Linked DNA regions of Homo sapiens. The gene in region 5 interacts genetically with the main gene of each other region. Each region holds a gene or a part of one and is shown on either strand. Other genes may lie near its edges. The genes, in order: RPRD1B, EBNA1BP2, CDK10, TOP3A, NF1, FBXW11 and ATG9A.

What was found.
Region 1: changes in NF1 (region 5) and RPRD1B together harm fitness more than expected from each alone (negative genetic interaction), as found in Homo sapiens cells (one large-scale study listed by BioGRID).
Region 2: changes in NF1 (region 5) and EBNA1BP2 together harm fitness more than expected from each alone (negative genetic interaction), as found in Homo sapiens cells (one large-scale study listed by BioGRID).
Region 3: changes in NF1 (region 5) and CDK10 together harm fitness more than expected from each alone (negative genetic interaction), as found in Homo sapiens cells (one large-scale study listed by BioGRID).
Region 4: changes in NF1 (region 5) and TOP3A are lethal when combined (synthetic lethality), as found in Homo sapiens cells (one large-scale study listed by BioGRID).
Region 6: changes in NF1 (region 5) and FBXW11 together harm fitness more than expected from each alone (negative genetic interaction), as found in Homo sapiens cells (one large-scale study listed by BioGRID).
Region 7: changes in NF1 (region 5) and ATG9A together harm fitness more than expected from each alone (negative genetic interaction), as found in Homo sapiens cells (one large-scale study listed by BioGRID).

What each region holds. Positions count from the first base shown.
Region 1 is NC_000020.11:38,064,309-38,068,647, reverse strand, and holds part of RPRD1B (regulation of nuclear pre-mRNA domain-containing protein 1B), read right to left. Parts: intron 2,568-4,339; coding exon 2,392-2,567; intron 1-2,391. UniProt on the Homo sapiens protein: Interacts with phosphorylated C-terminal heptapeptide repeat domain (CTD) of the largest RNA polymerase II subunit POLR2A, and participates in dephosphorylation of the CTD by RPAP2. Transcriptional regulator which enhances expression of CCND1.
Region 2 is NC_000001.11:43,163,684-43,167,326, forward strand, and holds the end of EBNA1BP2 (probable rRNA-processing protein EBP2), read right to left. Parts: intron 3,553-3,643; coding exon 3,477-3,552; intron 3,237-3,476; coding exon 3,143-3,236; intron 1,123-3,142; coding exon 960-1,122; intron 811-959; coding exon 760-810; 3' UTR 501-759; downstream 1-500. UniProt on the Homo sapiens protein: Required for the processing of the 27S pre-rRNA.
Region 3 is NC_000016.10:89,693,030-89,697,368, reverse strand, and holds the end of CDK10 (cyclin-dependent kinase 10), read right to left. Parts: intron 4,096-4,339; coding exon 4,043-4,095; intron 3,972-4,042; coding exon 3,902-3,971; intron 3,197-3,901; coding exon 3,137-3,196; intron 2,942-3,136; coding exon of another isoform or gene 2,824-2,941; exon of another isoform or gene 2,807-2,823; intron 2,801-2,806; coding exon of another isoform or gene 2,705-2,800; coding exon 2,581-2,704; intron 2,439-2,580; coding exon 2,299-2,438; intron 2,077-2,298; coding exon 2,024-2,076; intron 1,775-2,023; coding exon 1,677-1,774; 3' UTR 1,641-1,676; coding exon of another isoform or gene 1,594-1,640; 3' UTR 1,015-1,593; downstream 1-1,014. Other genes in the region: SPATA2L (spermatogenesis-associated protein 2-like protein), read left to right, coding at 1-35. UniProt on the Homo sapiens protein: Cyclin-dependent kinase that phosphorylates the transcription factor ETS2 (in vitro) and positively controls its proteasomal degradation (in cells).
Region 4 is NC_000017.11:18,270,089-18,273,961, forward strand, and holds the end of TOP3A (DNA topoisomerase 3-alpha), read right to left. Parts: 3' UTR 1,340-3,873; downstream 1-1,339. UniProt on the Homo sapiens protein: Releases the supercoiling and torsional tension of DNA introduced during the DNA replication and transcription by transiently cleaving and rejoining one strand of the DNA duplex.
Region 5 is NC_000017.11:31,227,477-31,230,976, forward strand, and holds part of NF1 (neurofibromin), read left to right. Parts: intron 1-46; coding exon 47-130; intron 131-1,548; coding exon 1,549-1,989; intron 1,990-2,358; coding exon 2,359-2,498; intron 2,499-2,783; coding exon 2,784-2,906; intron 2,907-3,365; coding exon 3,366-3,449; intron 3,450-3,500. UniProt on the Homo sapiens protein: Stimulates the GTPase activity of Ras. NF1 shows greater affinity for Ras GAP, but lower specific activity. May be a regulator of Ras activity.
Region 6 is NC_000005.10:171,996,071-172,000,409, reverse strand, and holds part of FBXW11 (F-box/WD repeat-containing protein 11), read left to right. Parts: intron 1-3,358; exon of another isoform or gene 3,359-3,520; intron 3,521-4,339.
Region 7 is NC_000002.12:219,222,554-219,226,892, forward strand, and holds part of ATG9A (autophagy-related protein 9A), read right to left. Parts: coding exon 4,316-4,339; intron 3,020-4,315; coding exon 2,858-3,019; intron 2,660-2,857; coding exon 2,518-2,659; intron 2,302-2,517; coding exon 1,553-2,301; intron 1,470-1,552; coding exon 1,316-1,469; intron 1,212-1,315; coding exon 1,032-1,211; intron 341-1,031; coding exon 92-340; intron 1-91. UniProt on the Homo sapiens protein: Phospholipid scramblase involved in autophagy by mediating autophagosomal membrane expansion. Cycles between the preautophagosomal structure/phagophore assembly site (PAS) and the cytoplasmic vesicle pool and supplies membrane for the growing autophagosome.

The DNA.
Region 1 (4,339 bases), on a different chromosome or scaffold from region 5:
CGGCCAGATCACTTGACGTCAGGAGTTCAAGACCAGCCTGGCCAATATGGTGAAACTCTGTCTCTGCTAAAAACAAAAAAAATTAGCCGGGCGTGGTAGTACATGCCTATAATCTATAATCCCAGCTACTCAGGAGGCTGAGACGGGGGATTGGTTGAGCCTGGGAGGTGGAGGCTGCAGTGAGCTGAGATCACGTCACTGCACTCCAACCTGAGTGACAGAGCGAGACTCCATCTCAGAAAAAAACCTTATACTGTATCTAGTCATTTGCTTTCTTTAATGCAGCAAATCGGCTCTATTTTTTACAATAAATGGTTCTGCTCATGTGCCTCGGAGACATGGTTTGAGATAAGAACCTTCAGTTCAGACTCTGTACGTTGGTTCCAGTGGTGGGGCCTTTCTGTTCCGCTTCTTCAGCAATGGAATGCCAGCCCCATTCCACTGAATGAACCGCGCAGAGCAACGCAGACTGGAAAGTTACAGAACGCATCCAAAGCTCTAATCTGTTTCTCCACCTTAATGCCCTCTCGTGGCGTCCAGCAAACCACTAGTTCTACAAAAACCAGAATGATTCCCCAACAATATACAGAGCAGAGTGCAACTGTGGGGAGGGAAAACAGAACAAAGAGTTAACCAGCTCTACCAACCCGATCTCCTCAAAGACTCTGTCCTCTATGGTTGCTTGCCACGTTCTACCCAACAACAGCTGCTCATGATAATCAATGTCTGACAGATCAGAGAAAGCCCTTAATGTGTCGCCAAGGGGCAGTTCAACAGATGGCATGGTGACTTACAACCAGAATCATTAATTACACTCTCTTATTAGTCCCGGGGCACAGTGCTGAAAATGCTTCCTCAGTGAAAGATGAGCATTTCAGATAAATGACCGTCTGGTACTGCCTGTAAAACTCCCTTTAGGATCTCTGGTCAGTGCCGATGTCTAAATCTAAGCTGTAGGATTTTTACAGCCCTTTCCCATCTTCCACATTCAAGCAGGCTACGAATGTGAAGTTCCTGCTACCACTACGCAACACAGTTCCCAGAATCACTGCAGGTAAGGATACGGTAAAAAGTGCCTGCCACTCATTTCCCCTCAAGTCAGATGACCATGCTGAAAGGCAAATACAATGATCTCAGCCTCAGAGATAGCTCAATGTTCCCTCCTTCTGTGCCAGAGCACGTTTCCTGAGCATGGAGGTGACATGGCTCTCCCTGTCCCTTGTCTACTCTGAGTGGGATTTAAGAAGTATTTCTTGAAATACAACATGACTGGCTCTCTAACTCAGAAGTGTCCTCCTTCACAAAACCACTGGCTGCAACTCTTTTCCATATCTCTTAAAAAAAGAAGAGCAGACATTCCTGAAAAGGAAGTGCAGCAGCCCGGGGCAGCAAAGTTCCCAAAAATCCACACTGCTGGCTCTGTTATCCCACGGGAGCAAGTACTGAGGGTAAACTACCATGTACTTAATTACGAAGCCAAACAAGTGTATGGTGAGGAAATGTTTCTGAACTCCCTCCCCAAGGTCACTCAGACTAATGTCCTCAACCCAGGGTAGAAATGAGGTCTTTTACAGTTTGAGAACTGTGCTATATAAATACTACTGTGACATTTAAGAGCTAATTACAGATAGATCTTGGAGGCAGACAACTTCTTGGCCGCAGCATGGATAAAGTCAGAAATAAACCTCCAAACGGCTGGGCGCGGTGGCTCACACCTGTAATCCCAGCACTTTGGGAGGCTGAGGTGGGCAGATCATGAGGTCAGGAGATCAAGACTATCCTGGCTAACATGGTGAAACCCCGTCCCTACTAAAAATACAAAAAATTAGCCAGGCGTGGTGGTGGACGCCTGTAGTTCCAGCTACTTGGGAGGCTGAGGCAGGAGAATGGCGTGAACCTGGGAGGCAGAGCTTGCAGTGAGCCGAGATCGCACCGCTGCACTCCAGCCTGGGCGACGGAGCGAGACTGCGTCTCAAAAAAAAAAAGAAATAAACCTCCAAATGACTTGAAAGAAACATTTTTCAGCACTTCCCAAATACTACCAAACATATTCTTTGGTTTTCACTGATTTGCTATCCTTTTTGTACCTCAATTCGTAATTTTTTTAAAAACATGAGTTCAAACGAAAGCAATATTAAGATCCTAAGGCTGTGATTAAGAGTTCACTGTTTGTTTCCTACAATCCAGTTTGTTCTGTCCTGGACATATAAGAACATGACTTCAATTTTTAACTGGGCTCAAATAATTACAGTATCTGATGGATGTTCAGAATTCACATCATGAATTTTTAAACGATAAAAATGTTGTTAATTAAAGCATAATAAAAACCTCCTAATGTGGGCTACAGGAAGGGAAACGTGGGCAGTCTGGGTCTGCCTTCAATGCACTCACCTCTAGTTTTTTCTCCTTCTCCGACAAAACATCTTTCTGATTCTGGGTATACTCCACCAACATCCGAGCCAGCTGGCGACGGTCCTCCAGTTCTGCTGCCAGGCGCCCGTTATATTCTGCTAGTAACAGACATGCTTCATCTACTGTTTTTGAAAGACGTTCAGCTGCCTCTTTGTCTAAGTACAAATGAGACCAAAAAATAGAGAAAATATACAAATCACACAGGTATGACTACAAACATTTCTGGGGGAGGTTAACGGTTTCTCTCCCAATATACAGAGTCTGAGAATAAGCCAGCACCTGTGGACAAACAATGAGTTGATTAAGCAAGAAATCCAAAGGCATTCACTCTGTCAACAAGACAGGACACTACTCAATTACCTGAAGTGAGGAAGCTGTACATGGGGGGAATCTGGCAAAGGCTTTCTAAATGCCTGTTCCTGCAAAAGCTCTCCTGACAAAACAAGCATAAAGAGATATTGAAGATCACCTGTGAAAAAATCGTTCCTTGTCTCTGAGAATTGCAAGTGCTTTCATTTATATTACGGTTGGCCCCTATATCTGTGGGTTCTGTATCTGTGGATTCAACCAACCATGAATGGAAAATACTCAGACCAAAAAACCCCACAAACCAATAAAAATAACAATTAAAAACCCAATTTTAAAAATACAGAATAACAACTATTTACATAGCATTTACATTGCATTAGCTATGATAAGTAATCTAGAGAGTATTTAAAGTATATGGGAAGATGTTTGTTGGTTATAGACAAATCCGACACCATTTAAGGGCCTTGAGCAACCTTGGATTTTGGTATCCTCAGAAGGTCTTGGAACCAAACCCCCATGGATATGGAGGGACCACTATATTTCATTAAGTAGTCTTTTTACTTTCCACTGGAATAAAAAATAGCATGCACTTATTTATTGGGTGTGGGAACTAAGACCCCCTCCCCGCCAGAAAAAAAACTACATGACAGGTTTCTATATGCAGTGAGCTGAGATGCTGGGGCTCGAAGCCAGATCTCTAAAATGATCTATAGCACTCTATCTCTTAAACTATGTAAGCCTTGGACGTGGGGATGAACTTCTTCCTACATTTGACAAAATGTAAAGTCTGATAAGAAAGAGGTTTTTAAATGTTTCTGAACATGACCCACAGCAGAAATACACTTATGTAAATACACAGAAAAATGAAAGCAGCGTTTCATAAAATACCCATTCTTACTATGTGTGCTCTATCTTCTATTTTATCTCTTTTTTTTTTTTTTGAGATGGTGTCTTGCTCTGTGACCCAGGCTGGAGTGCAGTGGCATGATCTCGGCTCACTGCAAGCTCCGCCTCCCAGGTTCATGCCATTCTCCTGCCTCAGCCTCCCGAGTAGCTGGGAGTACAGGCCCCCGCCACCACGCCCGTCTAATTTTTTTGTATTTTTAGTAGAGACGAGGTTTCACTGTGTTAGCCAGGATGGCTTTATTCCATTTTTCAAAAACTGTTGGTCATTAGCTACCAGACTGATTTCATATCCAATTAATGGGTTGTAACTCATGCTTTGGGGGTGGAAAAACATTAAGAAAGGGTATTTTTGGGAAGAAGTGATGAACAAAGGCTCATAATTAAGAAATGAGAAGAAAAAGCAGGATCTGTATTTACAAAGAACTGATATAATTAATTATGTGTGGGTGGTGGTGAGATTCGAATTTTAAATATGTATAACTCATTTTTAAAAGACCTGAATGAATCAAAAGAGTAGGTTGGTGCTTTGAAACAAAGGGCACCAGAGACTCCGGCAGTACCGTGGGACAGTTCCATGACATTCCCTATGGATACAGGCTGTCAGAGGTGAGAGCTCGCATTCTCCTGGGGAACTAGGATTTAAGAATCCCCAACACAGTATCTCTGGCAAACAGCCATCTGGCTTTTCGATGCCTTCTTAATGTGAATATTG
Region 2 (3,643 bases), on a different chromosome or scaffold from region 5:
AATAAAACTTAAAAACAGTGCCTGCGAAATTCTAAAATTCTAAGGAGGAAATTCCTATCAGCCCAAATTAAAGGCAATTTCAGAAATGCAAGGAGATAAAAAGTTTACCTCTCATCTTCCCTTTCTTAGTAAGATACCAAAAAATGGTACACAGCAAAAGAAGGCATATGCTAAGATGGGAAAACATGGGATTCTGGAAATAATGGTGCCAACTTAAACGGTCTAGAAAAAAGGTGACAGTTGTGTGGCATAACTAGGTTGTAGGAGAAAAATTATAAAGTGGGTAAAATGACAAAGCATCTGGAAAGAACTAAGAATATAGAAGGAAAATTAGGCAAGCAGAAGAATGTAAGGTGAAGGTTAACTGGAGGAAAAACCAAAAGCTGTACCACAAAGAAAATCACGGTGGCTCACACCTGTAAAATATGGGCATTGAGCTTTACAGGGATTGATCGTAATATAACTATTTAGAAGGATGAGACAAAGGAAATGAGAAGGTGTCAGTTAAATCATTATTTATCATAAAATGAAGGCAATTTGAACTCAATGTCTAAATTATCAATAGATAGCAATGGAAAGTAACTTCTCAATCTTTTAGTCTAGACTATTTAACCAAAGGTATGTGTTCCTTTAATAATTTTTCTTTAGTTTATTGAAAGAAATGTTTACAACATGACACCAACAGAAGGGATCAAAGTGTGTCGTGAAATTGCGAGTCTTCATTCCTTTTTCTTGGTTCTTTGTATTCAAAGATGCTATTTAGTGTGTTCTGTTCTTCATCTTCTCTCTTGTTCGTTTTCCAGGTCTCTTCTACAGAAAAAGACATACCACATCTGGTCACATAGCAGCTTGCCTTCTGCCCCAGGGTGAGGACGAACAGAACTGAAGGGAGAGGGCAGGGTTGGGAGTGGGAGGGGAGGCTGAGCCTGCTCCTCACCCGGGCACCTGGGCTCACTTACATTTGACCCTTTCTTGCCAGGCCTCTTGAGGCCTCTGCCATGAGCTGTCTTGGCCCGGAAGCTAGATACATCATCATAGCTCTCCCGAGTGTTCCACTTTGAGCCTTTCTTCTTTCCACCAAAACCAAACTTCTGGTTTTTATACCGTCGTTTAGCACTGGGCCTGGAAAAGAATGGTCCTAGACATCACTACAGCACTGTAAAGCCTGATGAACCTGATGGCCCAGCAATGCTCTCAGTTTCCTTTCTATAAGCAAAGCCCCTTAGGCACGTCTGTAACCCAGAATCTCATCCTTGGCCCCACAATCCTATGCTACAGCCTCTCTAGACAAACTCATCTAGCTCACCTATTTACAGTTTTGACCACCAGGGCAGGAAAATAAAGCAAGAAGCAGGGAAGGCTCTACATATATTACATGGCTTCCTGCTGTCTTTAGAAAGCTTTCTATTTTAACCAAATCTTATTAAATCACCCTCAGTTGTGTCTATTCCTCTCAAGGGTAAATACATGCAGTTAACATCCAAATGTAATATGTTACATTTGTAACATTCAAATGTAATGTAATGAATACGTTCAAATGTAAACATTCAAATGTAATTATAGGCATTCAAATAACATTCAAATGGAATAACATTCAAATGTAAAACTGGTCATCCAATAGGAATCTTGAATTCAGCATCTCCAAATTCACATCATCTCCTGGACTGGCTCTGCTTCCTGTACATATGCCCTCACTTGAGGCTGGCGCTGCTCCCACCAACCCAGACACACAGGCTAAACATGTGGGAGTCAGCCTTGGTTCTTCTCTCACTCTTTATACCCAATTCAATTACTGAGTCCTGCTCATTTCACCTCTTAAATGTTTCTTCAATCCTTATCTCGACTTTTGCAATAGTACCCTTGTCAATTTCCCAGCTTCCCTCAAGTCTGTCACTTATACAAAATCCACTGTGATCTTTTTAAAAACATGAATATAACCTGCTCATTACTGTTAGTACAACCTACAACCTAGTCTCTCCACTGCCTTCTGACAAAGCCCAAGCTCCTCAACAAGGCAAACCCACAGCCCAGGTCCCCCCAAACACATTGCACCCCTCCTTGCTTTGCACTGTATTCCCAGTGACACCAAGGGCTTACTGTTCCTCACAAAACCCTGAGGTTTCACATCTCGATGGCTTTGCTCGTTCAAGCTCTTACTTCTTCCCAAACCCAGCTTCTCTTCTATTCTCGTGGTTAATTCCTACTCATGCTTCAAGCAATGCTCAAGTCGAACGCTCCTCCAGAAATCCACCCCAGACCCTGTCAGGTATTTATAAAAGCTGACTCAGTACTAATCCCCAAATGCCTCTATCATAGCACTTACTATCTTACATGGAAATTATCATTTCCCCTAGGCCTGGTATCCAGGTATGCAAAAAAGCAGACTAGAAAAAACAATGAGAGCCCACATTCTCTCTTTCAGTCTTCATACTATGAGGCAGACACTATTTCCTCAACTTAGCAGATGAGGCAATTAGCATTTAGAAAGGCATGGTAACTCGTTCAAAACTGCCCTCCTACTGAGTGGTAGAGTCGGGATCTGAACCCTAGGTCTGAACTCTCAACCATCGCACTGTGTGATGGGGAATCAACTTTACTCAGCATTCACTTAAAGGGTGCCACATACTTAAAAGTACCTTCTTAGGATGGGTGCAGTGGTTCACACCTATAATCCCAGCACTTTGGGAGGCTGAGGTGAGTGAATCACTTGAGGCCAGGAGTTCACAACCAGCCTGGCCAACATGGTGAAACCCTGTCTCTACTACAAATACAAAAATTAGCTGGGTGTGATGGCAGGCACCTGTAGTTCCAGCTACTCAGGAGGCTGAGGCACAGAATTACTTGAGCCCAGGTGGCAGAGGTTGCAGTGAGCCAAGACTGTACCAGTGCACTGTAGCCTGAGTGACAGAATGAGACTGTCCAAAAAAAAAAGAAGTTTAAAAAGTGCCTTCTTTTACTCTTCAAAGACTGACATGGCTAAAAGGGCCCATCACACAGTCATAGGGGTCCTGGCCCCAGGCAGCAGCTGCACTCTCTGGACTCTATGGCTGCGCCGGTGGAGGTGCTATGTCTGCCATACTCGTGACCTGTGGCCCCATCGCACCTCACAGAACCAAAGAAACCATGCCAAAACCCTTCTCACCCCTTCCTCATCTGCTGGCCTTTGGCTCCTGCCTTCTTGCGCTGTGCCAGAGGTTTCTGATCTCCCTCAAGGAAATCCAGTTTATCAGAGAAGCCTGTAAGTGAAGAAGTAGTTTTGATCAGCACCATTGTATTTTAAGAATAAAAGTTTAAACCACCATATGAGGCTGTTATTTGCTACACTGATTTTAAGAGTCACATCCTGCTCTCCAACACCATTCCCAAAACTTTGATCCGACAGGTCCACATCAACCAAGAAGGCTCCAAAGCACTAAGTGTTCAAATCAACTCTAAAGTACCTGCTACCCTCGTTCCCCTATTAGAGATGTACCAACCTTTCTGATATTTCTTAATAGCATTCATCATATGGGCTTTCTCCTGCTGCCTCTTCTGAAGAACCTCCGTTTGCACCTGTGATATGAACACAAGGACCGTTACAGCCATTCCATACCATTACTCCAGTGTCTACATTGTCTTAATAGCAACACCATGATTAATACCA
Region 3 (4,339 bases), on a different chromosome or scaffold from region 5:
CTCTGCTCTACAACAGCCCCGGGGCCCGGCCCTAGGCCAGCTGGGCCCCAGGTCAAGGGCTCTTGGGAGACAGCTCCCGTGGTGCTTCTCTTTGCTGGGGAGGGGTCTGGGCCTCTGGTTGCCTTGTCCCTGGGGGAGTCCTGGGCACAGCAGGGGGTTGGAGAGTCCAGGCCAACCCTTGCTGGAGGTGGGACTCTCTGTATATGGAAGGCTCCAAGGGCAGCAGGCCTAAGCCGGCCAGCAGGAGCCTTTCCACATTTCCCCACCCTCGGAACCCAGACGCATGCCCACATGTGCTGGGTAGAGGGGTCCAGCCTGTTCCAGCCAGTGCCTGAACCTGTCCCTGAGAAGGACCCTGTGCCCCAAGGCCCGTGGCTCCTGGCCTGCTCCCTGCAGTACGGAGTACGGGGCTCAGGACTTGGGGGTCCTCCACGTGTCCCAGGGATTCTCCACACGAGTGTCCTCAAGGGCCTGTTGGTGACACCGAGCTCCCCCCACCCCAAGCTCTGCTGGAGCCAATCTGCGGGGCTCTGCCGGGTGCACGGCTGACCTGGCTTCGGGGACGCCGGCCCTCCCCTTGGGTGTCACAGCAGCTGGGCCCACAGACAGGAAATGACCTGACCTCAAACCAGATGTGGAGGTGCACGAGAGGCGCAGGAACGGGCAGTGGCTGACAGCTGGGAAGGCCCTGAGCGTCACTGCTGCTGGGCGGAAGGGCCTGTGGACAGCCCGCCCAGGCGGCGGGGTCTTGGTGGGTCCAGTGGTAATGGTGCCCCTCCCCTCCATTCCCTGTGGGTGCAGCCCACAGGCTGGCGAGGAGGTGCCTCTGCCCTACCCTCGGGTCTGGCGAGGGAGAGGGCAGGGTGCATCCACTGTGACAGCCCCTCTGGGCCCACAACTCCCTGACCCTGGAAGCTGAGCCTGCTTTCCTGACCCTCCGCCCCACCCCCTCCTCCCCAGAACACTCAGAGGGACGGTCAACATCAGAGCACATTAAACGCTGGTGAAACCATGTCTGTTAAAAAAGCTTTTATCCAACAAGAGCCTATAGCTTCGCTCAGCATCAGAGCCACGGCCTCCTGTTGGGTCCTCCATGTGGGGAGCAGGGATGCAGCTCAGCCTCCAGCCCAGGGCTCTCCTGGTAGTCTCGGGGTATCCTCAATTGTGGCTCCCACCCCATACCTTGTCCCTCTTGTCCTCATCTGGAGTCCTGCCAGGCCCACCTGGGGTCCCCACAGCCAACCCATGCACGGGACAGCCCCGGGCGACTGAGAGGGGATACGAAGGTCTTCTGGGCCCTCTCATCCCAGGCCAGCGTCCACCACAACTCAAAGACAGCGGGGGGACTGCACCCACCACTCCTCCCAAGAAGCAGTGGTTGCACATTTCCAACATAGCGAGGAGGACCACATGAGACCCCTGCAGCCACGGATGGAGCCGCCAGACCTGCCCTTCCAGGGTGCACGGGCTGGGAGCCCCCCGGTGTCACCCGGCCTTTTTCTGGGGGCAGCAGTGGGTTCAGGGCAGACAGTGGGAGGAAGTCAGTGGAGGATGTTCCCAGCCAAGGGGATGAGCTGGATCCCGGGCGCCTGGTCAGCCTGGCTCGCGGCACCCTTCACAGACACCACTGATCGGAAGACCTGGTGTGGGAATACAGGCGTGTGCCAGGCCCACCGTCAGGGTTTACAGCGCTTGCTCTGGCCCTCGGAGGTGGCTGGGGCGGCCCGCTTGTTGCGGTGGTGGGGAAAGGTCGGCATGAGCTCCGGCTCACAGGCTGCAGGGAGAAGGGTTCAGTGCTGGGCGGGGCAGGGCCCCAGATAGGAGGAGCAGGCCCAGGTCTGAGTCCAGCTCTGCCTCTGGACCTGGCCCTGGGCTGTCTGTGCCTCCACATGCCCCTGTCCTCTTACCCCAGAAAGGGTGTGCCGTCAGTGAGGGCAGCAGGCCACTTCTCCACCACCCACCCCGGGCAAAACGGGCTCCCAGCCATACCCCACAGAGCGAGTCAGGAACCCTGCACACTCACGTAGGGGCTTCTCCTTGAAATAGGAGCTCTCCAGGCAGTCCCCGGCCGTCGCCCTGGAGGAGGCAGCCTGCGTTAGTGCGACTTGTGAGTGCGGCTTCCTCACCTCCCACCCAGCTGAGCAGCCTGTGATTCAAATGCTCAAAGGAAGCCAGGTGGCCACTCCGAGCGGCTGTGCCTGGGGAGGGGCCTCTCCACCGCAGTGAGGCTGGGCTCTGGGAAACGGTCTGGACAGTGTGGGTGGTGAGGGTCCCTGCCCCCCGTGCAGAGATCAGCACCTTTTCTTAGGGTCGTACATGAACAGGAAGTGCAGCAGGCGCAGCCCGGCCTCCGACAGCCATGGGAACTTGTGCTTCAGGTTGTTGTAGGGCTGCTTCCGGAGGCTGTACTGGCCGACCAGTGGCAGCTTGGAAAAGCCCTATGGGAGGCAGGAGCTGAGGCGCAGAGGGCGTGGGCACGGGCGGGGGCTGCGGGCGCAGAGGGCGTGGGCACGGGCGGGGGCTGCGGGCGCAGAGGGCGTGGGCACGGGCGGGGGCTGCGGGTCTGCCCAGGACGCCCACCGGCCAGATGTTCTCACTGGGCGTGCCCAGCAGCTGCACGATCAAGTCGATCTGGTGGATCTCGGAAGTGCCGGGGAGAAGAGGCCTGTGCGCCAGCAGCTCGGCCAGTATGCAGCCCACAGCCCTGCAGAGAACAGTGGACCTCACTGCGGCCAGACGTCTGCTGACCCCGCCAGCGCGAGGAACAGAGGACCTGACTGCAGCCAGACCTTTGCTGACCCTGCCAGTGTGAGGCACGCTGGGTCAGGGACACTGTGAAGGACAGGCAGGGACCACTGGCTCCCCTCCTGGGCCCCGCAGGCCTCCCGGGGTGACAAGTGCAGGGGCAGGCGTGCCTCCTCCAGACCTCTGTGCTCCCAGCCTGAGAACAGCAAGCTAAGTTCTCACACCTCCTCCTGGGTTTCCAGGCTCAGGCCCACCTCCCTGGGAGTGGGAGGCTGGCAAAGACCCCACTGCACTCCTGCCCCTCCCCTGAGGCTGAGCTCAGGAACCAGGTGACCCGGCTCCTGTCCCAGCCCTTCCTGAGGCCCCAGGAGCGGTAACCGTATCTCCTCACCACATGTCGATGCTGGTGGTCTGCGTGGTGGTTCCCAACAGCAGTTCAGGGGCTCGGTACCTACACACAGAAGCACCCACCTCAATACAGCCGGCTCCTCTCCCCCAGCCCAGGCCTCCACAGGACACAGCCTCCCCGAGAGCCTGTGGTGGCCTGGAAACCTGTCCCAACTCGGACCACCCTCTGCCCCAGGCCCTGCAGATCCAGGTGGCACACACAGCAATGGTTGCCGGGGGCGAGAGCTGTCACGTGCAGCGGTGTCCTGAGAGTCGCAGGGACCACGGACCCTCGGCACACAGCCACACCAGCCACTACCAACCCGTTCTCAGATGGGGAGTACACGACACTGGGGTCCTGACCTGATTCTGACCAACTCTGATATTCAGCCCTGGCTAAGCATGACCCTGTTTGGTTAAAAGTATCCAGGAGGAAGAACCAGGGAAAGCATGCAAGCTGCCTGTCCTTCAGTCCGTGAAGCAGCCTTCCCTCCAGAGATGGTTTCACGGCCACGGTGTTTCCAGCTCTCAAGGCGAGGTGTGTCTGATCTAGGCAGGCCCTTGACGCCACTGAGCCCGTCTCTCACCATTTTGTGGCACAGCCCTGCTGTGTCCTGGAGGCTGTCCTAGACCCAACGTTTCTGAGTGTGCACAGACCCTGTAGCTTAACATTCCCAAGGCCAGTTGCAGCTTCGGCCTGACATCCCCAAGGAGACCTCCACCAGACAGGCCTGGTCCCCAGGGGCCACCATGCTTCAGAAGGACTTACCAGAGAGTGACCACCTTGGGGGTCATTGGCTTTACTGGGACACCATAGGCCCGGGCCAGGCCGAAATCCGCTGCAGCAGAGAGGGGAGTGTGTGTCACCAAGTGCCATCTAGGGACAGGGCCTGGCCCAAGTTGCACCCACCTGTCTTCACACAACCCTTGTCGGTCATGAGCAAGTTGGAAACCTTCAGGTCCCTGTGATGGAAAAACAGTGGCAGGTGGCTCCCAGAGGGCCACAGGGGCTGAGAGCTCCCCCACGGCACCAATGCCCGTAGACTTCCTGCACGTTTCCTCAGCTTTGGGCTTTTTAGTATCTTTTTTTTTTTTTTTTGAGACAGAGTCTCACTCTGTCGCCCAGGCTGGAGTGCAGTGGAGCAATCCCGGCTCACTGCAAGCTCCGCCTCCCGGGTTCACGCCATTCTCCTGCCTCGGCCTCCCA
Region 4 (3,873 bases), about 13 Mb from region 5:
AACCAGAAAGCCCACAGTGCAGCCTTCAGTCTGTGGCAGAAGGCTCCAGGAAGCTGCTGGTGCAAGTCCCAGAGTCCAAATGCCGAAGAACCTGGAGTCTGATGTCCAACAGCAGAGAAGAGGAAGCAAGCATCTGGCACGGAAGAGGGAGAGGGCTGGAGAAGACTCAGCAAGGTGCTCATCCCCCTTCTTCCACCTGTTGTTCTGGCCGTGCTGGCAGCTGATTGGATGGTACCCACCCACATTGAGGGTAGGTCTTCCTTTCTCAGTCCACCGAGTCATGTCACTCTCCTCTGGCAACACCCTTACAGACACCCAGAAAAAATACCAGCCATCTCGGCATCCCTTAATCTAGTGAAGTTGACACCTAACATTAACCACTGCACCAACACCACCTGTGTGTGAGCTGGTGGTCTAAGGTGGGGATGGGGTGCACAGATCTGTCCCTGGTAGGGACGGTCAACAGGTGAGTGGCAACACCCTGGTGAGCATATTGAGCTGGGGCCACCTGTGTTCCAGTCCAAGAAACCTGGAGATCCAGCTGAATGTGAACATCCCAGGTCTTCGGCCGGATTCTATAAGAGGCAGGTGGTGAATTCATCCCAAAGGGCAGTGGGGTCTCTGCCCAGTGTCTCAAAAGCCAGTGCCTCCAGGTGCGGGCCCCAGCGCTGTTGGGCACATTGAGCCTGGCTCTGGGGAGTGGGGGAGCCGGATGTTGGTGACAAGGCTTATTTTTAATTCTGGATGCTCTAAGTATCCGGGGTGGGATCAGGCAGAGACTCCTCAACTGCTACAAGTTGTGTGGGGTGGTCTCGTTTCCTCTGCTGTTAAGTGCAAGCAATCACCTGGGGAAGCATGTGCAGGACGTCAGCCAGGCTTCTTTGCCAAGATGGCAGGGAAGCCTCCAGTTACCCCATGGGCTCTCAGCATTGGTGTGGAGAGCAGGGAGGGGCTTTTTACAAAACTCTGATGGGGCTTGGGGGGACATGGCATCAGAGATTAGGTTTCAAGGCCAGGTTAGCTGCTTGGTAGAGGAAAACACTTAACCCAACAGAGCTATGGTTCCTGCACAAAAAGGACAGGAGATGCTGTCTTGCTGGCAGCAGGAGGTTGAAACCACTGTAGGTGACAGCCTGGCCAGTGCCTAGTCTCAGCTAGATCCATCAAGGGGGGGGCGGGGGGGGTCCATTTTCTTTTCCTTGGTTTTGCATTGCACAAGCTGCAGATGTGGCTCAACACAGGGACTAAAAACCCTTCCAGTCAACGTTGACGGGGTAGGATGAGCTGCATGCTGCTAACCTGAGTGGGCCATCGAGAGAGACTTAGAAATTCCAACAGGTTTGATTTGTGAAGCTTTAATTTGCAGTCGTGCCTGACCGTAAGCCTTCACTAGAGAGCCTCAATATGAACAAGGACACCCCATTACGGATGAGGCAACTGGGGCTCCAAGGATGAGGCTGCACACCCAGGGTGGCAGAAGAGGCCAGGAAGTGGGAGCTGAGCCTGGGTCTGTCTGATCTCAGATGCCTGGCCCAGTCCATGGTGCAGCCCAATCCTGCAGTTTGCTTTTGAGACACACAGTTGCCTGCAGAGATGTGAAAACCACAAAGGCATCTGATATCCAGAAACTATTAAGAACTCCTACAACTCAACAACAAAGACAGACAACACAATTTAAAAATGGGGGAAGAGACCAGGTGTGATGGCTCCTGCCTGTTAATCCTAGCACTTTGGGAGGCCGAGGCTGGTAGATCACCTGAGGTCACGAGTTTGAGACCAGCCTGGCCAACATGGTGAAACCCCGTCTTTACTAAAAATACTAAACAAATTAGCTGGGTGTGGAGGCAGATGCCTGTAATTCCAGCTACTTGGGAGGCTGAGGCAGGAGAACTGCTTGAACCCAGGAGGCAGAGGTTGCAGTGAGCCAAGATCGCACCACTGCACTCCAGCCTGGGCACAAGAGCGAAACTCCATCTCAAAAAAAAATAAAAAATAAAAAATAAAAAATGGGTGAAGAACTTAAATCGACATTCTCCAAAGAATGTATACCAATGGCCAGTAAGCCTGTGGAAAGATGGTCAATGTCATTAATGACTAGGAAAATGCAAAACAAAACCACAATGACACGCCACTTCATACCCACTAGGATGACAAAACACTAGGATGGCTATAATACAAGAAAAGGAAAGGAACAAGTGTTCACAAGGATATGGAGAAGCAGTAACCCTGGTGTGCTGCTGGTGGGTGTAAAGTGGTGCATCCACTGTGGAAAATTTGTAGGTTCCTCAAAAAGTCAAAACATGGAGTTATGGTATAAAACTACAATTCCATTCCTCGGCATATGCCCAAAATAACTGAAAACAAGTCATCAGACACTCATACACCAATGTTCACAACAGTGCTATTCACAATAGCCAAAAAGTGGAAACAACCCAATGTCCATCAACTGACAAATGGATAATCGTGTGGTATATTCATACAGTGGGCTATCAGCTTATCATAAACATCGAGGACTGACATGCTACAATGTGGATGAGCCTGACAAACATCAGCCAAGTCAAAGAAACCAGACACAGGATGTCATGTATGGTAGGATTTCATTTTTTTTTTTTTCTTGAGACAGAGTTTCACTCTTTTTGCCCAGGCTGGAGTGCAATGGCCCGATCTCAGCTCACTGCAACCTCTGCTTCCTGAGTAGCTGGGATTACAGGTGCCTGACACCACGCCCGGCTAATTTTTGTATTTTTTTAGAGACGGGGTTTCATCATATTGGTCAGGCTGGTCTCGAACTCCTGACCTCAGGTGATCTGCCCACCTTGGCCTCCCAAAGTGCTAGGATTACAGGCGTGAGCCACTGTGCCCAGCCTGGTATGATTCCATTTAAACAAAATATCCAGAGTAGGTAAACCCACAGAGACAAAAAGTGGTTGGTGGTACCCCGGAGCTGGGATAGGCAAAATCACACACGCAGGGCCACAACCCACACCCACTCGGAGATGTTCCAGGAACAATCTCAGGAACCTGCATTTGTAAAAATCCTCCCCAATACCCCATCAGAACACAGAGCCACTGGTCTATGGGCCAGGAGCCCAAGACCTGAGAACAATCCTAGTTTCTTCAACAACTAGCAACATGACTGGGCAACTCACACCCACCTCTGCTCATCTTCTAAACTGTAAATCAGAGTCCATATGGCTTGTATTATTCACAAGGTTTTTGTGAAGGCAAACGGGGGAACATGGCCACCACTGGAAAAAGTGGAAGATGGAAAGTTAGTGATCTGAATCTGAACCTTTCATTAGACATCTCTGCTCTGAGGGACCATCTGTGGGGTGAGAAGAAATTGGGCTCAGTGCTTACCATGTGGAAAGGGAGGAAGGGCTCTCCACATGGGACACAAGGGACAGCCATGAAGGACAGAGGCTGACGAGACCTCCCAGGGTGAGCTCCTTCCAGCACTGGCTGGTACCTGTTGCTTCTGCAAATGTTCCCCAGACCCTCTGCACTCTCGCAGGTCAGAGTAAAAAAAGGTTGGATTCTTTCATTTTAAAAAAAGTTTGAGACAGGGTCTTACTCTGTCACCCAGGCTGGAGTGCAGTGGTGTGATCATGGCTTGCTGCAGCCTCAAACTCTTGGGTTCAAAGGATCCTCCCACTTCAGCCTCCTGAGCAGCTGAACTAAAGACGTGTACAACTGTGCTTGTTATATTTTTAAAAATAGAGACAAGGTCTAACTATGTTGCCCAGGCTGGTCTTGAACTCCTGATCTCAAGCAATCCTCCAGCCTTGGCCTCCCTAAGTGCTGGATTACAGGTGTGAGCCTCCACGCCCTGCCGGGGTTGGATTCTTTTTATTTTTTTAAATTTTTAAATTT
Region 5 (3,500 bases):
AGCTCTAGACTAAGTTGCTTTCAAGTGATAATTGCCTTCATTTTAGGCTTGGGAAGATACACATGCAAAATGGGAACAAGCAACAAAGCTAATCCTTAACTATCCAAAAGCCAAAATGGAAGATGGCCAGGTAAGTCTGTAAAGTTGACTTTTGTCTGTTAACTGATCTGCTAAATATATGTACTTCACTTTGATAATCTTTCAAGAGTCGCTCAGTAAAGTAAACATATAGCTGTGTGAAGACTGATATTTAGTTGTGGTTTATCTAGACCTGTACTTTGTAATGTGGTAGCTACTAGCTATGTGTGACTATTTAACTTAAATTTTAACATAATTAAAATTAAATAAAATTTAGTTCCTCAATCATATAGTAACCACATCGCAAGTACCAGTAGCCACATATGACAATTACTTACTCTATTGGACAGCAGAGAGAGAAAATGTTCCTGTCATCACAGAAATACTGGGCAGCACTGCTAGAGACTGTTTGTTGCAGAGACCATTTCTTTACCTTTTCTTGCTCTTTCTCCCTTCATCAGGGTGTTTCACAGAATTTTCAGAAAAGGAGCAACAGAGGTAGAGATAAATTAACATGGAAACAATTCATTTTGCTATTTTGTTAGGTATTCTAATTAAGGAATGTCTTAGGCAGTAGATTGATCCCATAGAGTAAATGAAATTTTAAAATGTGGACAGTTCATTCAACTATTACTATTGACTATATTATCTGTTACTTTGGAAATTAATGATCAGTTAGTGTTTGTGTGTATTTGATTTGTAATGTTCATATTGCTCTCATTATTAGGTGATTTATAAAAACTGGTTGTTCCTCCATGGTGTTTTTGTCATGCTTAATTACAATAGGAAAAAGTTATATTTTTACGAAGCAAATGTGTGTACCTAATACCTTTATTTGGAGGGGACATGTAGCTTTAGAATGAAAGCTTTTGGGGGGATAACTGTTTTATATAATTACATACCATACAGTTCACCCATTTAAAGTGTCCAATTCAGTGACTGTTTTTAATGTATTCACAGAGTTGTGCAACCATCACCACAATCAAGTTTTAGAACAATTTCATCAATTGAGAAAAAAACCCCGTACCCTTTAGCTATCTCTGCCTCTAACCACCCCCCACCCACTTTCTTGCCTCTCTTCCCCCAACGTCTCTAGCCCTAGGCAACCATGAATCTACTTTCTGTCTTTGTAGATTTGCCTATTCCGGATATATTCTGTAAATGGAATTATAGAATATGTGGGCTTTTGTGATTAGCTTCTTTCACTTAGCATGATGTTTCCAAGGTTCATCCATGTGAAATCAAAACTTTTTAAAAGAAATTTGACACTCGGCTGATTATATTAGTGTATGATAAAAATAGATCAGTGGCTCTTTAAAAATGTATATGGTAATTTTATGGGTTGATTTTAATGTATATTTTACATTTTTTGTACTTTTGTCATGGAAGAAATGTTGGATAAAGCATAATTTGTCAAGTCTCAACTAATTAAGGTTTAATTCATGCTTTGCACAAAAATTTTGTGTTTAGGCTGCTGAAAGCCTTCACAAGACCATTGTTAAGAGGCGAATGTCCCATGTGAGTGGAGGAGGATCCATAGATTTGTCTGACACAGACTCCCTACAGGAATGGATCAACATGACTGGCTTCCTTTGTGCCCTTGGGGGAGTGTGCCTCCAGCAGAGAAGCAATTCTGGCCTGGCAACCTATAGCCCACCCATGGGTCCAGTCAGTGAACGTAAGGGTTCTATGATTTCAGTGATGTCTTCAGAGGGAAACGCAGATACACCTGTCAGCAAATTTATGGATCGGCTGTTGTCCTTAATGGTGTGTAACCATGAGAAAGTGGGACTTCAAATACGGACCAATGTTAAGGATCTGGTGGGTCTAGAATTGAGTCCTGCTCTGTATCCAATGCTATTTAACAAATTGAAGAATACCATCAGCAAGTTTTTTGACTCCCAAGGACAGGTAAAGTGTTCTCTTATTTTTCACCTTTCTCTATGAATAGAGTGACTTGTTTGAAATAAGCCTTTTTCTTTCAGATTATTTAAATTAGGTACTCACAGTTTTTAAAAATTTCCAAAAAATTGCAGAAAGAAGAGTCATCTCAATGTAGGGGTCAGCTTGCCTCTTAGGAACTCTGGTGTGTATGTGTGCCTAAGGGTATACGTGCCCTGTGTATGGGTACGAGTGTCTGCGTATATCTGTATGCTTATTTGGCTCTATGCCTGTGGGTGCACTTACTCTGTGTGTTTAGATCAGTCAGTTTCATCTCTCTAGGGGGTCTGTCTTCTGGGCATTGATGGCAAATCATTAATGTATTTGTTCTTTCTTTAGGTTTTATTGACTGATACCAATACTCAATTTGTAGAACAAACCATAGCTATAATGAAGAACTTGCTAGATAATCATACTGAAGGCAGCTCTGAACATCTAGGGCAAGCTAGCATTGAAACAATGATGTTAAATCTGGTCAGGTAAGCATTCTACTGAAATGTAGCAGAAACATTTTAAGAGATAAGAAAAACCTCTTACACACTGATACTGGTAGTAATTGATAAAATAACTGGCCATTCTTTACTGCACACAAACTAGGGTGTGACAGTAAGGTAGCCAGAAGTTGTGTACGTTCTTTTCTAAATAAATATCTTATTGTTTTCAAACTTACATTTAATTCGTTTTACTTGATGACTAAAGTATTTAGAATGCCTTCTCTTTTGTCTATATCTGATAATTTTTTTATTGTTTCTATGTCTATATAGGTATGTTCGTGTGCTTGGGAATATGGTCCATGCAATTCAAATAAAAACGAAACTGTGTCAATTAGTTGAAGTAATGATGGCAAGGAGAGATGACCTCTCATTTTGCCAAGAGATGAAATTTAGGTGAGTTCTCAAAAGAGCAATGTAGGGTCTTGTAAATCTTAATATGTCCAATGAAGTACAGAAAAAGAGTAGATATGCGGTTATTGGTAGAAAGGAGGACATGAAAAGAGAGCAATTTACATGTTTGTTTTTCTCTACATCTCTTCTCAAATTTCCCTAAGCTTTGTGCCTGTGACAATGCTCCCTTTTTCTAAAACTGTGCTATACTTGAGCTAAGAATTTGATTCTATTTCCAATCTGATACCATAACTAAGGGCCATGATGGAGGATAAATATCCATGTTGCTTGTTCCCTTCTGGCTTTTATGTCTGTGATAGCAGTATCTCTTTTATAAAGTCGTCATGTCACTTAGGTTATCTGGCAAATTATTTGCACTATAAGAAATCTTACGTGACTAAAGGTGTGTGTGTGGCTTCAAAAACATTGTTTGCTGTTTCTCTTTTCTCCACCATTCTATAGGAATAAGATGGTAGAATACCTGACAGACTGGGTTATGGGAACATCAAACCAAGCAGCAGATGATGATGTAAAATGTCTTACAAGGTAAAAAAAGAATGACCTTCAAGTATTAGTGGGTTTTACTGTGAGAGTTAT
Region 6 (4,339 bases), on a different chromosome or scaffold from region 5:
GATCTATGCTGTAACTACAGAGAGAACCCACCCAGTCCTATTTTTATGCCTGGTATCCTGACAGAAAGAGACTGGTGATTAGTTTATATTGACATTGAGCATTGGGATTTATGTTTGATCGGTTTAGTTTAGACTGACCAAATTGTGGTTTTTGAATTCTTATTCTTACCATCATCAAAGCTGATGGTTTTAACCTTAACAGAATAAGCAGTGAGAATTCATACAAGATTTTCTTCTGAGTTGTATTGTTCATTGAATTAGATGACAATGGGGGAAGAAACGTGTTGGTTAAGAATGTGCTCGTTACCCTTGGTTAGTTTCTGCTGATCGCAATTGCTTAAGAGGAAGTTTGTCTTTGTAGGCAAATGAGAGACAGACCAGGAAGACCTGACAATCCAGTAGGGTATCTCTTACCTGGTTCTTAGTGTTTTAATGAAACTAAAAGATGGAAGAGTTCTGTGATGTCAGCGGGAAGCGTTTTTAGGAAATTCCCTCTCAGGTTGAGTTAACAATGAAGAGCTTCACAAAATGGAAAGCTGTGAAGTATAAACACTGGGACATTAATAGGAAAAATAAAAAAAAAAGCTTTGGCTCTTTGGCTTGTGATAGAGAGGTGTGTAAATATAAGCATATTGAATGTAGGAAACCATTGTATAGTAAAAAGCCTCTGATCCACAGAAGAAAAAGAAAGACTGAGGTTCTACTATTGTGAAAAAGGAACTTGAGTAATTTTTAATGTTTATTTTTTTAGGAGTTAACTGGAGAACATTGAACCAGTTTTGGTAACTAACAATAAAATATATTTTGGCCCTCTGAAATGACTACATGATAGATTCAAAGAGAAAGGGGGCAGAGGGGCAGGAAGAACTCAGTCCTGACACTACTCACCTGGCATCTGTTAATCTTTGTATTACTAGCATAAGGCCTGCCAGCAATTAGGGATTGAAGAAATATATATATACAATTAGGGATTGAAGAAATATATATGTGTGTGTATATATATATATATTTTTTTTTTTTGAAGGGAAGGGAGAAAAATTAACTCACTAGTACAGGGGAAAAGCCTGAGGATTCAAGAGGTCCAGAAATGAGTCTGTTAGTCAAATTGCTGTGGTTGTGTTTTGCTATAACTTGTTTTGCATTTTGGATAGTCGTACCTTGAAAAGCATAGTATACTGTTTTAGCAGTTCGCTACTAGCCATAGTTCCCTAGCTACTTCTGTCAAAATTGGGTTTCCAGTTTATTCTTAGGCTTAGGAGTAATACCACTTAATGGGAAAAACTTGAGAACTCATTATTTGCTTGGGATTTTACTTTTGTGATCTCCTTAAAGTTGTGAGTCTTAAGGTATTTTCATCTGATTGTTATGGCGAGGTTAATCATAGACCGGTATTTCAGTCACTTTAATTGCCTTACCTACAATATGAACAATCAGAACATCTTTAAGAGTCATTGCCTGTGGACTGTCAACAAATCTTAGAATTTAAAAATTACTTGGGTTCAGCTGGATTTGAGATTCTTTGTCACAGTTACAATCTTTGCTGCTAAACACAAAGACTACTTGAGTACCATTATAGTATGTCTTGCCACAGTCTTTTTTTTTTTTTTTTTTTTGAGACGGAGTCTTGCTCTGTTAACCAGGCTGGAGTACAGTGGCACGATCTCAGCTCACTGCAGCCTCTGTCTCCCGGGTTCAAGTGATTCTCCTTCCTCAGCCTCCCGAGTAGCTGGGATTGTAGGCATGTGCCACCAGGCCCGGTTAATTTTTGTACTTTTAGTAGAGATGGGGTTTCACCATGTTGGTCAGGCTGGCCTCACACTCCTGACCTCAAGTGATCTGCCCGCCTCGGCCTCCCAAAATGTTGGGACTACAGGTGTGAGCCATCGAGCCCAGCCTATAATGTGTTTTGTTTTAGCATTAATATTGTGGGCTTTAGGCTGGGCATGGGGGCTCACACCTGTAATCCCAGCCCTTTGGGAGGCCAAGGTAGGCAGATCGCTTGAGCTTAGGAGTTCGAGGCCAGCCTGGGCAACATGGTGAAACCCTGTCTCTACTTAAAAAAAAAAAAAAAAAGACAAGAAAAAAATATCATGGGCTGTAGAATTGCATGGCTCTTTGTTAATTAAATGCTTTTTTAAGTGGCAAGATCTAGGGAATTACCCTTTCAGGATGGCCCAACTGATTCATGTAGGCTGAAATATTTACTCTTCTGTATTTTCATTGTTCTCCATTTTGATGTTAATTAATTTAGGACCTTTGAGAGTAAAGCTTGATTTCTTCTCCTCTCTCAGAAATCATGGGCTTTCTGACCCTTGAACTGTGGAGTCCATAGTGCTCCATGAAAAGGGCATGGGCTCTACTACCTAGTAGATGTGGGACTTTGGATAGGTTACTTCTTTCTGCTCATCTTTTTTTGAGAATTAAATATGGGTAATTAATGTAAAGGGCTTGGCCAGTTAGTAGCTTTTCAATAAGGTAGGTATTACTATAATTACTGCAGGAGCATTTTGGCTATAATGTAGCAATTGTGGAAGTAGCAAATTTATGTTCGAGTAAGTTCAGTCTTTTTGTTTTTATCTTTGTTGTTCTGCTGAATGCTTTTTCTCTTTCCCTTTTAGTTTGTTTAGAATTTGCAGTCTAATTTGATATGGTAGAAAAAGAATATTGATATAATATGGACAGGACTTAATATTTAATGGTGTCACCTAGTAAATTGTATATTAGCGTTCTTTATGATTTTTCCCAGTTTACGTGATCATTGGCCATTGTACGGGACTGGCCTTTACTGAGTCAGAAGTTCAGTCTTCAGTTATATGTTTTGAAGCACACTATATTTTAGCTAAGGGTAGAGGATTTGGGTAATATGTAGATATGATGTCTTATATGTAGCAAACCAAAACATTTTGTTAGGTACGTAAATAAATATCTTTATGGTAGATATTTGAGCCCTCTCGTATCATTCTTTTTGGCTGACAAACTATTTTTCTAATGGTGGAGGAGCTGTCTTAGAAAATGGATAAGGAAGTTCAGTGTAGCTGAATGGTCTAGGACAATTTATATGGATGATAGGGTAGGTATTTTTTAGCTGCTCTCATTTGGAAGTTGCATGCTGTTTATCATGAGTAAATATTAACATTAGGGATGTTCCATTATTTGTTACGAGTTTTGTATCCTTTCAACACAGAGGTGAGGAATGCTGCTGCAGGCATTTTATGCCAAATAGCTGACTCAGGGGTTATAACTTTTTTCCTGTGCCTCAGATCCACCATTCCATTGACCCTTCCTTCCATTTCTTGGAGGCTGTCCTTTGCCGCTGGTGCCATGGTGGGTGTATGGATTGCTTTCTGTCTTTCAACAGTTACCGAAGTGCATGTTTGGGATTTTGTTGAAGAAAGCTGGATACAGTAAACGGAAAGAATCTTGGAAGATGCTTGACTGCTGTCTTTTCTCAGACTAGTCTGAAAGGGAAAACCCCCATTCATTCTGGATTGGTGGATCTGAAGTACAAAATATTTTCCAGGTAAGCAATTACCCTGTATTGTTTTGTTTTGTGGAACTCAACTCGCTGAAAGAAATTTTGAAAAATATTTTCCCTTATTTATTTTGTCCATTAATAGGGAAAGGGAGAAATATTAGACGTTTGTGCGTAGTGTCATGTTTGGCCATGTTTGAGTGTGGATCAGTGAAGGTCTATGTGTCTGAATTCCTGGTAAAAACTTTGTTTTACTGTAAGAAGTGCAGTTATTATTATCTTTGAGACATCAGGTCGCCCAGGCTGGACTGCAGTGGCACAAACATGGCTTACTGCAGCCTTGACCTCTTGGCCTCACACGATCTTCCTGCCTTAGCCTCTCAGGTAGCTGGGACCACAGGCACATGTCACTATGCTCAGCTAATTTCTTTTTTGTAGAGACAGGGTCTCACCATGTTGCCCAGACTGGTCTTGAACTCCTGGGCTCGAATGATTTGCCTGCCTTGGCCTCCCAGAGTGTTGGGATTACAGACATGAGCCACCACGCCTAACTCAGTTATTTTTATTGTAAGCCCAAATAGTTTTTATTCATAGTCTAATAGGAAATACAGTAAACAGAGACATATGTTGTTTAGGGAATAGCTTGTAAAATATGGAAAACAAATGGTAACTTTGAGGCATTCTCACATGATTTATATAATAGTTAATACCTGGTCAAAATATTTTTTGCGGTTTCATGTAAAGTGGTGATATTTTATTCTGAGGTCTCTTGGCAGGTCGTCTTGGGGAGGTTTACTAACTGTAGCAACTGCTTATTGAGAGCGAGTGCTACATGCCAGTTACCCTTGTATGCACTTTACATATATT
Region 7 (4,339 bases), on a different chromosome or scaffold from region 5:
AGCAGGAAGCCTTCCACCCCATGCCCGGTCCCTCAACTCCCAGCTCCTGAAGTCCACTCTGCCCATCATCTCCCAGTCACCAGGAACACACCTCAGACTCAGATTGTAAGGACTGGATAGACGTAAAGAGGGCATTTTCAGGGAGCAGACCCCCTTGGGCGAGGCTAGCAGCTGCTCCATCCCGCTGAACCTGCTCCTTGAGGAAGCCTAGGAAGGCTGTGCTCTCACGTGGTGGCTGCCAGCCAGGGTTGGTGATGGCAAAGTGCATGAGTGACAACTCTGTCTTTCCATCCTCAGCTTGCTGGTACACTGAGGCCTCTGTCTGCCCAGCAGATAGCCACTGCACAAGGAAGAGCAGAGTAAGCAGGGCTGTTCTCTTCCAGGAGCCTTCCTGCACCTTTCCTGTTAGTGGGGAGGCCTTACCCTTGGAGAACGGAGACCACAGTATACTGTCAATCTTTCCCAGGGCACTGGTGCCCCCCCAGACCCAGGAGGGGCTGCACTGCATGCTGAGCCAGTTACTTGTGTTGTGCCTTTTTTTTTTTTTTTTTTGAGATGGAGTCTCGCTCTGTCGCCCAGGCTGGATTGCAGTGGCGTGATCTCGGCTCACTGCAAGCTCCGCCTCCCAGGTTCACGCCATTCTCCTGCCTCAGCCTCCCGAGTAGCTGGGACTACAGGCGCCCGCTACCACGCCTGGCTAATTTTTTTGTATTTTTAGTAGAGAAGGGGTTTCACCGTGTTAGCCAGGATGGTCTCGATCTCCTGACCTCGTGATCCACCCGCCTTGGCCTCCCAAAGTGCTGGGATTACAGACGTGAGCCACCGCGCCTGGCCGTGTTGTGCCTTTCTTAAGGGAGCTTGGCCAAGGGTGCGAATTAGGGCTGAAATCCAGCCCAGGCTCCCAAGCAGTGTGCCCCTGGTATAGGACTGCCTTTGTGTGACTCAGGAGAGGTGTCTTTTTGCGGTTTTCCCAAAGACACTGTATGTTCCAGCATCATCCCAGGCCACCTGGCTCCCTCCTCTCCCAGTACCTGGGGATGACCATGCTGGCGAACATCCATCTGAGCAAAGGAGCAGGTATCTCCCACACCAACGACCTCCACGGTGAAGTTTCGGAAGAAGTCTATAATCTCCAGGGCCCGTGGGCGCAGGCAGAAGATGAGGATGAGGGGTGTGACAATGGGGCTCAGCAACTCTTCCAAAATGAACACCTAAAAGGGCGGGACCAAGGTCACAAGCGAGCAGGAGGGAGCCCAGCCCTCACCACCGAGCTACCAGCCAGTCTCTAGCAGGCCCTAACTCCAACTCCACTCACTGCCTTGTACTGGAAGAGCTGGGCAAACTCGTCCCGGGTCTGCGAGCGGTGGGCATTACCCTGCCAGTGGTCAGGCATGTAGTGGATGTGAGCGAGGATCACGCGGAGCAGCTGCTCAGGGCAGAACACCATGTGCTGGTCCGGGATAAAGGACCTAGTGGGATCAGGATCATGGTGAGATGTATGCCTTTCCCAGGAATGCTAGCCGGCTTGCTCCCGCCTGTGGCCCTGGCCCACCTGCACACGGTCACGGTGACCCCCAGGAGTGTGACGGTGGTCAGCACATGTTCCACAGCCAACACATCTTCGTCATAAATGGTGAGGGCAATAAGCACAGCCAGGATGGAGCCAGCGAAGAAGGCTCCATTCTTGGCCAGCAGTGTCAAAAGAGGTGACAAGAAGCAATTCATGTACTTGGAGGCGGGCTTGTAGCCACGGTTGAGGCGGGACTGCAGCTCGTGCTCCAGCTCGTTGAAGTGGCGGAGGTAGCAGCGGCCATAGAGTGACCAGCAGCGTGCTCCCAGGGCCCCCGGCTCCCGCTTCAGCACCTCAGCATAGCTGAAGAAGGCATAGAGGATTTGCCATATGAGGATGAGGGGGCACAGCAGGAAGTTAGCGATGCCAATCCACAGGATGCGGTTGCTGAGGCGCTGGGCCAGCTCTAGCCGTTGCCCCCCACGTTTGTACTCGGCCTTGAGGCTCCATTCATTGAGAAACAGAGAGCCAGGTCCCCAGAAGAGGATCAGCTCAAAGTTGTACTTGAGACCACGGGTGAAGAAGACAGCTTCCCCGAGGCCAGGCAGGCGGAAGCGCAGAGGCAGGAGGGATTTGTTAACCAGTGCCACCATGTAGTTCTGGAAACGGAGGATGCGGTGGTAGATGTCCAGTTCTGTCAGCTCACGTTTGTGGATGCAGATCTGGTGCTCCTTCTGCGTCTGCACGATCCGGGCCTGCACTTCTTGCCACGTGCAATACGGAAGGGCAGACTGCGGGGTGGGGTGGGGAAGAGACAAGGTACGGAAGGTGGGGTTGTTGCCTCGACCCCTTTGCCCTATATTAGAAGTGAGATTCAGGGGTTGTGAGCTTAAGAGACAGTTCCTGATTTGTCAATGACAGATAAGGATAACTGATGCCCAGGAATACACCCACACCTCCCAATACGTCTTAGACTATGGGCTAACTGCCCAACTTCCCAGTCTTACCATAGGGATGCGCAGAGCGTGCAGGTAGAAGGAGTGGATCTCCCAGTAGCAGCAAATGTTATAGATGAACTTGATAAGCCGGTGGATCCAGAAGACACCAGCAATGACCAGGATGGTGATAAGGGAGCCATTTTCCTGAATCCTGGTGGGGAAAAAGAAGGGGAGGAGAGGTGGCCCTCGAGGAAGGAGTCTTGGCAGAGACGCTGCTATCCTGAAGTATTTTTGCTAGACCAAGCCTGAGTCAGTTCTGGAGTATGAGTTGCTGCCTCAGACTCCACTCTATTACCCACCTGCTAGCAGAACTCAAGGCTATGGTGTCCTCTTGACTTGCAGCCCTTACCTGGCACTACAGACTTGAGCAGGCAAAAAGGCGTCTGGCAGAGTGACCTTGACGGGTTCAGTAGGGTGAAGACTGTGGTTCACCATCTTGTTGGCAAATAGGATGTCATAGTCCACGCAGCTGACCAGGAAGGTAGTGAAGGCAACCACAAAGAGGAACTGCCTGGGGAGTTGGGAAGAAGGGGTGCAGTCTGAGAGCCAGAGAGGCTCCAGTGAAACCCAGTGGGAAGAGGAGAGTCTGGAGGTGGCAGAACAAGACTGGGAACTGGAAGGGCCTGGAGAACTCCCAGTGGGCCCTCTCTGCTCCTCAGCCCCACAGGACTGTCTCAGGCCCACTCTTTGCTCTTAGCCTCAGCTGCCACAGCTGCAGCCTACTTTCCTCACCTCATGGTAACCTCAGCCACCACTACTGGACTCTCGAAGGTTTCATCCTGTGGGTCTCTGATCTCCAGTCTCTGATTTCCTTTTGAGGTTGTAGTTAAAAGCCCTTGGGGGAGTTTTCTGATTGAGGGAGGGCTTCCTAACCCCTTCCCCTTCGGCAATGCTATATGGCTTCTCTCTCCCAGGAGGCTCTCTGCCTAGGAGCAGGCCATGGAACAGGCAAGGCAGAACAGAGGCTTTTCTCTGTGGCTGGCATCTCTGAGACCTCCTGACTGAACAATGTACGTTCCATTGGAGCGTTGAGATGATCAAGGTCAAGGCCTGCATTCTTTTTTTTTTTGAGAGAGTCTCACTCTGTCAGCCAGGCTGGAGTGCAGCGGCACAATCTCGGCTCACTGCAACCTCCACCTCCCAGGTTGAAGCGATTCTTGTGCCTCAGCCTCCCAAGTAGCTGGGATTACAGGCGTGTGCCACCACACCCAGCTAATTTTTGTATTTTTAGAGCCTCCTAAAGTGCTGGGATTACAGGTGTGAGCTGCCGTGCCCAACCAAGGCTTGGGTTCTTTTCATGGAAGAGATAAGGCTTGGAAAGCTTTTCTTGTAAGAAAGCTTGGCCGGGCGTGGTGGCTCATGCCTATAATCCCGGCACTTCGGGAGGTTGAGGCGGGCAGATAACCCGAGGTCAGGAGTTCGAGACCAGCCTGGCCAACTTGGTGAAATCCCATCTCTACTAAAAATACAAAAAAAATTAGCCGGGCATGGTGGCACATGCCTGTAGTCCCAGCTACTAAGGAGGCTGAGGCAGGAGAATCACTTGAACCTGGGAGGCAGAGGTTGCACCGAGCCAAGACCACTGCACTCCTGCCTGGGCGACAGAGTGAGACTCACTCCATCTCAAAAAAAAAGAAAGGTGAAGCTGTAAGTTTTGGTGCCACACCCAGTCCCTGAACTACAAAGGTTTACGGAGTTTTAGCCTAGGACTGAGTTGTACTGGCAGGTTGGGCCAAGTGTGAGTGCAAGGAGAGGAAAGACTAAGATGTATTCTTTCACCACATCATCTGTCCCTTCTTATACTTACATGAGCTCAAAGATCTCCCCGATG